Homo sapiens: one gene and its partners. The protein of the gene in region 1 interacts with the protein of each later gene in a pairwise test. Each region holds a gene or a part of one and is shown on either strand. Other genes may lie near its edges.

Region 1 (2,911 bases):
CCTCCTGGAGGTCTTCAACAACATCATCCAGTACCAGTTTGATGGTGAGGCACCAGCCTGAGGCCCTGGTGGTCAGGGTGGCCAGCGGGCCTACTTCCTACATAAGGGGGGCACAGCCCAGGAGGTGGCCTCTGGGAGGTGCTGGCCTGCTTGCCTTCTGCCCCCAGTTCATTCATTCAGTGTACATTTATTGAGCATCTACAGTGTACCTGGGTGCAGGGGATGCAGTGGGGAACAAAGCTTTGCTTCTTGCCCTGTGGAGCTCATAGCTGGGGATGGAGGCAGGGAAGGAGGCTTCAAACAGATGATGGACATCTGAAATTTTTTTTTTTTTCCCGACGGCGTCTCACTCTGTCGCCCAGGCTGGAGTGCAGTGGCGCGATCTTGGCTCGCTGCAACCTCCGTCTCCCAGGTTCATGCAATTCTACTGCCTCGGCCTCCCAAGTAGCTGGGATTACAGGCGCCCCCCACCATACCTAGCTAATTTTTTGTATTTTTAATAGAGACAAGCAATCTGCCTGCCTCGGCCTCCCAAACTGCTGGGATAACAGGCATGAGCCGCCACATCTGGCCTGAAATGTGATAAAAGGGAAGTACAGAGTAGTAAGTCCCTGATGGGTATCTTAGCAGCCCGTCTGCCCAGTGTCACAGACATCCGGCTGCCTGCTGTCACTTCAAGCCTTGCCACTCGTTAGCCCTGTGACCAGGGCACGTCACTTGACCTCTCTGATCCTCAGTTCCCTCATCTGTAAGGTGCTCATAACAATGGTTCTAAGGGTCCTGGTCTCAGAAGGTGTTGGGAAGATGGGGCAAAATAACCCCCAGAAGGCACTTAGCACAGTGCCTGGCAACTTAAAAATGATCAGTTTCTATTATTGCTATTTCCAAAGTCGGGCAAATTTGCAGTGATCTCTGAGGGAGAAATAGGGGTAAGGTGGGGCAAGAGACAGCACATGCAAAGGCCCTGGGGTGGGATGTTGGAACTGAAAGTGAAGAGTATGGCATAAGGCAGGACCAGAGATGGGGACTGGGGCCTGAGAGCCAGGAGAAGTCAGCGTTGGGGGATGGACGGATCCTCTGTGACTTCTCCTGGCCACCTTGCTCGAGGGGAGGTGGGAAGAGAGTCAGAATATTTAACAGCTGGCCTGACGTGGATGCTGCCATGCTGGGGCCTGTACTTTTTGCCAGGTGTTAGCTGTTTAGTGCTGGGTTGTGGCGGGAACTCAAAGGCACTGGGGCGGGGGTGTTGTGAGGTGCTCAGGCCTGACATTCTGGGATAGCCATAGTGGGCACACACAGCCAGTGCCAGCCCTGCCCCAGCACCCTCTCTTGGGCTCCCTGTACCATCTCCAACCCCTTGGGCAGACACCCTCCTGTCCTCCAAACTCCCCCTTCCAGGAAGCCCACCCAGATTGGACGGGGGGAGCTGGAGGGGGCCTCCCTGAGGCGAGGCATGCTCCCTGCCCACAGGCAACTCCAACCTGGTCTACGCCATCATCCGCAAGCGCAGCATCTTCCACCAGCTGGCCAACCTGCCCACGGACCCGCCCACCATTCACAAGGCCCTGCAGCGGCGCCGGCGGACACCTGAGCCCTTGTCTCGCACCGGCTCCCAGGAGGGCACCTCCATGGAGGGCTCCCGCCCCGCTGCCCCTGCAGAGCCAGGCACCCTCAAGACCAGTCTGGTGGCTACTCCAGGTCTGGTGCTAGTGGATGGGACAGGAGTGTGGATACTGGTGTGGCTGGGGGAGGGACATGGTCTCGGGGTGTCACCCCCATCTCTGGCAAAGAGCATGGCTTATGTATGGAAGCCGAGGGGATGGGGCTGGGCAACAGGGATGGGGGGAGGGTACTGGATGGGCTTAGCATATGTAGCTTGGTGTTGGGGGCAAAGCCTCAGGGCGAGTGTAGACTCTGGAGGGATGGGCACAGGGATGGGGGAGGGTACTGGATGGGCTTAGCATGTGTAGCTTGGTGTTGGGGGCAGAGCCTCAGGGCGAGTGTAGACTCTGGAGGGATGGGCGCAGGAGAGGGCGTTACAGTGATCAGACACTGCCTCTAGAGCCGGTGGAGGTTCCAGAGGGAAGCAGGAGTAAAACAAATAAAAATAAAAAAGTGGGTGGAGGAAGGGCTAGAAGGGTCACTGTGGCAGGGAGTCCTCACTCCCACCTGTGCCCTGCCCAGGCATTGACAAGCTGACCGAGAAGTCCCAGGTGTCAGAGGATGGCACCTTGCGGTCCCTGGAACCTGAGCCCCAGCAGAGCTTGGAGGATGGCAGCCCGGCTAAGGGGGTGGGTGACGGGGACTCCTGGAGCCGGGCGTGGCTGGCCCTTCCCTTCCTCCCTGGTCTCTGCAGTAGGGGCTGGGCCGGGGCACTCTGGGGTCACCTGCAGCAGAGGGGCAGTTACCCAGTGCCCAGGGCATTAGGGTCAGCGCTGCTGACTCCCTTGGGGGTGGGGGCCTTTCACAGACCCCTCCCTTGTTTACTGGTTCCGGTGAAGCCCTTGGCCTTCAGACTTCTCATCCCTCCGCCTTATCTGAGCTGGCCTTTACCCGGCCTGCCCTGTCAGCTGCTGGCCTTAAACCTGTCACTAGGTTGGGCTGGGCCTAGGGCCTGGGGCAAAGGCTGCTGGGCTGGGCCTTCCCCTTTGTGGGATTTCCAGCTGCCAGTGGAGAGGGCTCATTGCCCCCCACTCCACCCCTCACCCACCGCCACCATCCCTCACCCCTGTTCCTTTCTGGGGGCCAGGAGCCCAGCCAGGCATGGAGGGAGCAGCGGCGACCGTCCACCTCATCAGCCAGTGGGCAGTGGAGCCCAACGCCAGAGTGGGTGAGGAGGGACCCTGTGCCAGGCGAGCGGGGGCTGGGGTTTGGGCAGATGGTACTGAGGCGGGAGCTGGGTTGGGGCTCC
Region 2 (3,652 bases), on another chromosome or scaffold:
GGGTTCCTTAAACAAGACACAAACGCTTTAATCAGAAAGTGAAAAAACCTGACACATTCAACAAAATTAAAATTAAGAACTTTTGTTCATAGAAGGACCGTGTGAACAGCGAGACGCGGCGTCCCCCAGGAGGTGTGGCTGCTGCATGTGTAACTGACAGTGTGAAGAGCTCCCACAAATCAATGGGAAAAACACCTTGGTAGAAAATGCGCACGGCCTTCGCCGGTGAGGAAACCCAGCGGGCAGCAAACCAGGGCAGCCCACCCCAACAACGCTGGAGGGACAGTGATGGGGAGAAGCGGTTTCAAGAGTCTGTTCCGATCTTCCAGAGCTGACCCTATGCGCACCCTGTGCCCCGGAGGTTCCACTGAGGGTGCACACCCAGAATCGCAGCCCACATCCCCAGACACCCGCACAGGAGTTTCCTAAGGTGGCCCAGGCTGCACAGTGCCCGGCAGTCTGCCAGGGAACAAACGGATTTCAGGGAAGCCACCATGACAACAGCAACTGGTAGCTCCACCTACCACCACAAGGGACCCTCACAAACAGAATAGTTTTGGTGAAAAAAAGCCACCCCCAAAACACAGGCTGAAGGAATCCAGGTATGAGGTCCCAAAGCAGGCAACATACAACCATCTCTGCTGGGGATGCCCTCTCAGGTGGCAGAACCACGAGGACAGCAAGGAACCACTGAGCACAAGGTCGGTGTCCCGGTGACTGCTTGGAGTAGGATGGGGCTGTCTGTGGGGAAGGGTCTCGGGGGATCTTAGGGGCTGGCCGGGAGCAGGATGGGGCTGTCTGTGGGGAAGGGTCTCGGGGGATCTCGGGGGTTGGCCATGTTGAACTCCTTGACACAGGTGGTGGTCGCCAGGTGGTCGTTCTAAACTTAACCACTGAACTGTGCGGATATTTATTAATGTCTCTGCAGGCCTATCACAGTTCACGACTTTGAAAAATTCTATTTTGGGGGGAAAACGTGGACACCAAACAGGAGTAGCTCTGGGCACCCCAGGAGCCATGAGAGGCGACTGACCCACTTCTCTGTTTGACAGAGGAGGGAACCGAAGCTCAAATAGAAAAAGGGGCTGCCCAGCAGCACGCTGCAGGAGGCAGGCAGGAGGGACCCTGTTTGGAGGGAGAGGAGGGGATTAATTTGAGGGATTAGAGGCACAGAGGCTCTGAGCACACGGAGAGCCAGCCGGGACTTGGTAATATCTATAAATATTTGAGAGTCACAAGAATAGTTTTTCCAAGCAGTCGAAGACAAGATAGCTGAGTGTGGCTGAGCAAGGGTCAAAGGACAAGAGCCAAGGTGGCCAGGCCATCAAATGGTGTGGCTGCATATCTACCATGTGGCCCCCCGGCCTGTGGGAGCCCTACTGTGCGCCAGCCTCTGCCAGGCACTGTGGCTGTCAGAACACCAGGGGCCAGACCCCGGCTCTGTTCTCTGGGGTGCCCATCTGGGGCCCTGGGGAAGACAGAAGACACCCCAGATGTCAGTGGGAGCCCCACTGACCTCCACTCCCCACCCCTTACCTGTCTTCCCTAAACACATCTGCTCTGGGCAGCCCCCAGGCCTTTGCACCTCTTGGAGGGTGGCCTGTCTGTCCTTGGAAACTCCTACCCATTCTTCATGCCTTGGCTCAAGTGTCCCTGCTTCCCGGAAGCTCTTCCCAATACCCCAGGCCAGGGTTCACAACCTGGGACCCCAGAGCATTGTGGGCAAACCCCTTCTGTATTCTGTCCGCTGGCCTAGGAGGATCTGTTGTGGGCCTCTGTCCCCGGCACTGGAGGGCCAACCGGGTCTTTTCACAGAGCTGGTACCCAGAGGGGGCTGGAGTCCACTTGGGAGGGAGGGGCAAGAGCGTCATGAAAACCCCAGGGAAAAGGCGACAGGGAAGACACAGAGTTTGTCATGTGGACAAGAAGGCAGGGAAGGGCATTCTCTACAGCAGGGACTGCGTGGGCAAAGGCAGGGGCATGAAGGTGGCAGCTTGTGGGGAACTCGGAAGCAGGGCGACAGCATGGGGGGGCAGCCAGTGGGAGGGACCAGGGAAGAGAGACCCCTCAATGTACACCTGCCCACCAAAGGGAGCCATTGAGGGCCACAGTGCCACCAGGTGACATGGTCCTTTTGCTCTTCAGCAAATATTTACAGGACTGTCCCATAAGTCAGTCCTGGCTCCAGGCCCTGGGGGGTGTGGGAGAGGAGGGGGCCAGGACCAGCACTCTCAGAGCTCAATCCAGACCCACAGACCCAGCCTGTGATGTGCAGACTCCACAGTCCAGGGGCCAGGAGGCAGGACCGACCATAGGGTCATCCCTGTGGACACTTCAGGACCCCTTCACTGTGACCACCGTGTGGTCTGAGGTTCCCCAGAGACCCTCTACCTGGGCCTGCTCTGGGCCAGGTCCCAGGAGAGATGCTTCCACCACAGGGGCTCACGGCACCCAACATCCCTGCAACCTGGTTGTGGTTAGGACACCCACTTTACAGATGAGAAAACTGAGGCCCAACCAGGGCCAGGACTTTGTCAGTGACTGGGTCTGTGGGACCCCAAACCCTGTGCCCTTCTGTGCAGGAAGCCATGCTGACCAACTTCCCTTCCACTCCCCTGGGCTTTTGGTTCTGAATCCCAGGCACCAAATGCAGGACAGAAACCCACTGGGGCAGCCCCGACACTGGCCAGAAGGGAAGATTCTGGAAAAGCCCTTCAGGCAACTCTGAGAACACTAATTGGGTGAGAGGGAGAGGAGGGCAGGACCCCTCCCCAGTTCTAGGAGTCCTTGCCCCACGCCACCCCTGGCAACTCCAGAAAGGCCACATGGCCCGATGCAGCCCAGGAGCCCAGGCCCTGGCCACTGCCTCCAGCCTTTATGGCTTAGCCCAGGGAAGCCTCAGCCCGCCTGGGACAGCAACGCTGACGCCATCAGCAGCTCAGGCAGCAGATCCGCCCACCTGGCACACCTGCCTACCTGTGCACCCAGCCGGGCGGGGTCATGCCTCTGTCCTCAGTGCCTGGCACACAGGAATAGGTGCCGGAGAGCCTTGGCCGGGCACAGGGAAGGAGGGAAAGAGAAAGAGAACCACCGCAGGGAACCCCCAGGCTGGCCTCAGGGCACCCCATGAATGCTAAGTTTTTCCTCAAGTCTCAGCTGAGTTAAGCAGTGTTTCCTCCCCCCCACAGGCGGTACAACCCAGGTGGTGAAATGACAGCCAATGTGGGGCACCAGGGAAGGGCCCTGGCCTGGGCCAGAGCCTGAGTTTGGGCCTGAGGTCATCTGTGTGACCACAGCCAGGGCTGTCGCTCTTTGGGCCTCACCGCCCCCACCTGGACCTTGGCCACGACAAGGTGGGCCTGGCTGATGGGTATCAGGTATTTGGGGTCTGAGATTGAACCACCTCAGAGACTGGACCCCTCCTCCCAGCACAAGACATGTTGGTCCTGTCCCTGTGGGACCCACAGTGGGGGCTGCACATCAGCTCCATGGCCCAGGAGATGGCCCTGCTCTGAGAGTCCACCCTGGGTCTCTGTGTGAGCCCACCTGCCCCCAGGCTCCCACCTGGGTGTTTCCAAGCCACTCACCCACGGCACTAAGGGTCAGCTGGCAGAGCCCAGGGCCCCTCTGCCCTAGACCTGGGCCCAGGCTG
Region 3 (3,652 bases), on another chromosome or scaffold:
TAAGAATAAATCCTATATAGTGCTAGCTTTAAGGGAATTTCTAGTCTAGAATTTTAATGCAGTATACTATGTTATTATCTGAAAACATGAAGGAAGAACTGAGGGTGTGTGTGGTTGCATGGGGAAGTGGGTTTGTGCATGGTTTATGTCAGACCAGGCTTGATAATTAAGTCTAATTAGCCAGGCAAGGAAGATGGTGGAAGGGGAGGGAATTTTCTGAGTAGAGAGAATAGCACATGCAAAAGTTTGCAGATAAGAGCTTGATTTTATTCAAGGAACTCTGGATAGTTAGGTTTAGTTCTAAGAGGAAATGGAATGGGAGATTGGAGTTTTGGGGGAGGTGGATAGGATATGATGCTAGAAATGTACATAGATCCAAATTATGTAAAATGGTATGTGCTATGCTGAAGAGATTGTCATCTTGCCTTGACTTTAGGACAGATTTCTCTATTTCTGCAAAAAATGTTGGGATTTTGGGATTTGGGATTTTGATAGGTAATGCATTGAATCTGTAGATTGCTTTATATAGTATTGACATCTTAACAATATTGTTTTGTAGTCCATGAACACGGGATACCTTTCTATTAGTGTCTTCTATATTTCTTTTTTTTTTTTTTTTTTGAGACAGAGTCTTGCTCTGTAGCCCAGGCTGGAGTGCAGTGGCGCGATCTCGGCTCACTGCAAGCTCCACCTCCTGGATTCATGCCATTCTCCTGCCTCAGCCTCCTGACTAGCTGGGACTACAAGCACCCGCCACCACGCCCGGCTAATTTTTTGTATTTTTAGTAGAGACGGGGTTTCACTGTGTTAGCCAGGATGGTGTCGATCTCCCGACCTCGTGATCCGCCCGCCTCAGCCTCCCAAAGTGCTGGGATTACAGGCGTGAGCCACTGCGCCCGGTCTATATTTCTTTTTAAGATTTTTTAATTTTTAATTACTAATTTTTAGAGATGAGGTCTTGCCTCATTGCCCAGGCTTGAGTGCAGTGGCACAATCATGGTTCGCCGTAGCCTCAAATTCCAGGGTGCAGGCAATCCTTCCGCTTCCACCTTCAGAGTAGCTAGGACTACAGGCATGCACCACCGAACCTGGCTAATTTATTTTTTTATAGAGACAGGGATCTCATTTTGTTGCCCAGGCTAGTCTCAACTCCTGGGCTCAAGCAGTCCTCTGACCTCATTGGCCTCCAAAAGTGCTAGGATTACAGGTGTGAGCCACCACACCTGGTCATTCTATAATTTCTTTCAGCAACATTTTCTGATTGTCATTGTACAAGTTTTTTGTCTCCTTGGTGAAATGTATTCTTAAGTATTTTATTCTTTTGATGCTACTGTAAATAGAATTGTTTTTTTAATTTGCTTTTCAGATTGTTCATTGTTAGTGTATAGAAATACAACTGGTTTTAGTGAGTTGATTTTATATTCTGCAACTTTCTTGAAACTCTTGATTTCTATTTTTGTTTTTTATGTTTTGAAACAGAGTCTCACTCTGTCACCCAGGCTGGAGTGCAGTGGCATGATCGCAGCTCACTGCAACCTCTGCCTCCCAGGTTGAAGCAGTTCTCCTGGCTCAGCCCCGCAAGTAGCTGGGACTACAGGCACGCACCACCACTCCTGGCTAATTTTTGTATTTTTAGTAGAGATGAGGTTTCACCATGTTGGCCAGGCTGGTCTTGAATTGCTGACCTCAAGCAAGCCGCCCATCTCGGCCTCCCAAAGTGCTAGGATTACAGGCAGGAGCCACTGTGCCTGGCTATTTATAAGCTATTAATTTAATAGAAATAAAATATTTGACAGATTTCTTCTTCCTATTCTTTGGTGTTACAGGATCTTCATGAAATCCCTATTTTACAGTGAGGAAGCATCAAGAAACAAATGGTATACTCTTTAATAGGAACAATATGCCATATTTATCAAATTATAGAATATATAAAGCTTGCAAATATTATGTAGTAGATAATTCCTTTAAAGTGTACTCCTCATGGTTATGTTCTAATCACATTCCCACAAAAGTTTCTATACTCTGAATAACTTTAAGGGAGGAATACAGTAATTGTTGGTGTATATGATAAGGTCCATGTGTTTTATGAATATTAGGTATTGGATATATGAGCTCATAAGAGAAGATAATCTTTGGTACGTTATATTGATCATGCCACTTTCCCAATTTCAAATAACTTATGGATTCTTAAAGGTATTAAATGAATAAGTACTATTTTTTAAGTAGATATGTCATTTTAAAACATTTTGGTTTGGGCCATGCCTTCGTCAATATGTTCCACATAGTTCCATATAAAATTAGAGTCTCTATATGATAACATCAAAGACATGCCTGAAGGGAACTTAATTTTTTTAAGGAGGTGGGGAATCCATTTGTAGAAACCAGTGTAAGAAGCTGTTTGAAAGACATCAAACATGGACTTGTCTGGACTTTGCAGGTTTTAAGGTATATATAGGAATCAAAATTGACTCATGACTTTTAAAGCTTCATGTCAGTAAAAAATAAAAGAGAAATGTTGGGAATGGTAATATTTGAGATATATAGTTTTTACTTAGCTACAGAAATGTACCCATAGGAACTTGCTTGAATCTGAATGCTCTGCTACACGTGTTTAGAATTATTTTTGCCTCTTTTGCCAAAACATAATAAAATGATAGCAAAATATGACAGTATGTGCACTGATCACAACAATATAATAAACTGCATCCATGTCTTTTAAAACTAGGCAAGAATAGACAAAATGCTCTAATTTCTGTTGGAGACTAGCAATATGCAAACCAGACCATTTTTGTTGAAAAATTCTGGAGACATTTATGACCGAGTTTTTATATCCTTTAAGATAATTTTATCCTTTCATGATTGTATCATTTCATGATATGTTCCTTTTGTGACAAATGCTGCTAGTATCAGTGTCACAGATTGTTACTGATGATATACAGTGTTTATGCTTTAAATTCCGAACTCACAGAATTTAATGGAAACTTCAGAATTCTTTAAATTTCAAAAGTTTTAAAGCATATTTATTTGGGTACAAAATTTTATTGCCTTTAAAAATCTTTTTCAGTATCAAGTTTATTATCAAAAGCACAAATAATAAAATAGAATTTAAAATATTTATTTTCAGAATACCACTATTTTAATAAATGATCTTTTGCCTATGCCAGCGTCTGCTATTAACATCTAGCTAATATATTTTCTGTGTCTAGTAAATATGGTAATCAGTTTCAAAGAAAACTAGGTAGGTTTTGTGAGGCAAAGTTGAAACACCTTGAAGAAATGGGAAAGTTTGGGGGCTCTAATAGGACAGGATAAATATTTCTTGATTCATTTTTTAATTGCTCCATTTATTTTCTATACATAGAATCAAAAATTCTAAAAAGAGAACATTATCTTAAGACTGCACAAATTAACAGTGAAAGGAATTGTCCCACTCATTATTAAGAATGCTGTCAGGCTGGGCACAGTGGCACACACTTGGGAGGCCAAGGCAGGAGGATTACTTGAGTCCGGGAGTCTGAGACCAGCCTGGACAACAAAGCGAGACCCTGTCTCTACAAAAAACATTTTTTTAATTAGCTAGGCATGGTGGTGTGTGCCTGTGGTCCCAGCTACTTGAGAGGTTGAGGCAGGAGGATCGCTTGGGCCTGGTAAG

The links.
Region 2: the proteins of HID1 (region 1) and BEGAIN interact in a two-hybrid assay, tested with the Homo sapiens proteins (one large-scale study listed by BioGRID and IntAct).
Region 3: the proteins of HID1 (region 1) and RBBP8 interact in a two-hybrid assay, tested with the Homo sapiens proteins (one large-scale study listed by BioGRID and IntAct).

What each region holds. Positions count from the first base shown.
Region 1 is NC_000017.11:74,952,925-74,955,835, reverse strand, and holds part of HID1 (protein HID1), read left to right. Parts: coding exon 1-44; intron 45-503; coding exon of another isoform or gene 504-583; exon of another isoform or gene 584-1,394; intron 1,395-1,398; coding exon of another isoform or gene 1,399-1,445; exon of another isoform or gene 1,446-1,470; coding exon 1,471-1,698; intron 1,699-2,184; coding exon 2,185-2,291; intron 2,292-2,749; coding exon 2,750-2,830; intron 2,831-2,911. UniProt on the Homo sapiens protein: May play an important role in the development of cancers in a broad range of tissues.
Region 2 is NC_000014.9:100,563,338-100,566,989, forward strand, and holds part of BEGAIN (brain-enriched guanylate kinase-associated protein), read right to left. Parts: exon of another isoform or gene 3,588-3,652; intron 1-3,587. UniProt on the Homo sapiens protein: May sustain the structure of the postsynaptic density (PSD).
Region 3 is NC_000018.10:22,939,718-22,943,369, forward strand, and holds part of RBBP8 (DNA endonuclease RBBP8), read left to right. Parts: intron 1-3,652. UniProt on the Homo sapiens protein: Endonuclease that cooperates with the MRE11-RAD50-NBN (MRN) complex in DNA-end resection, the first step of double-strand break (DSB) repair through the homologous recombination (HR) pathway.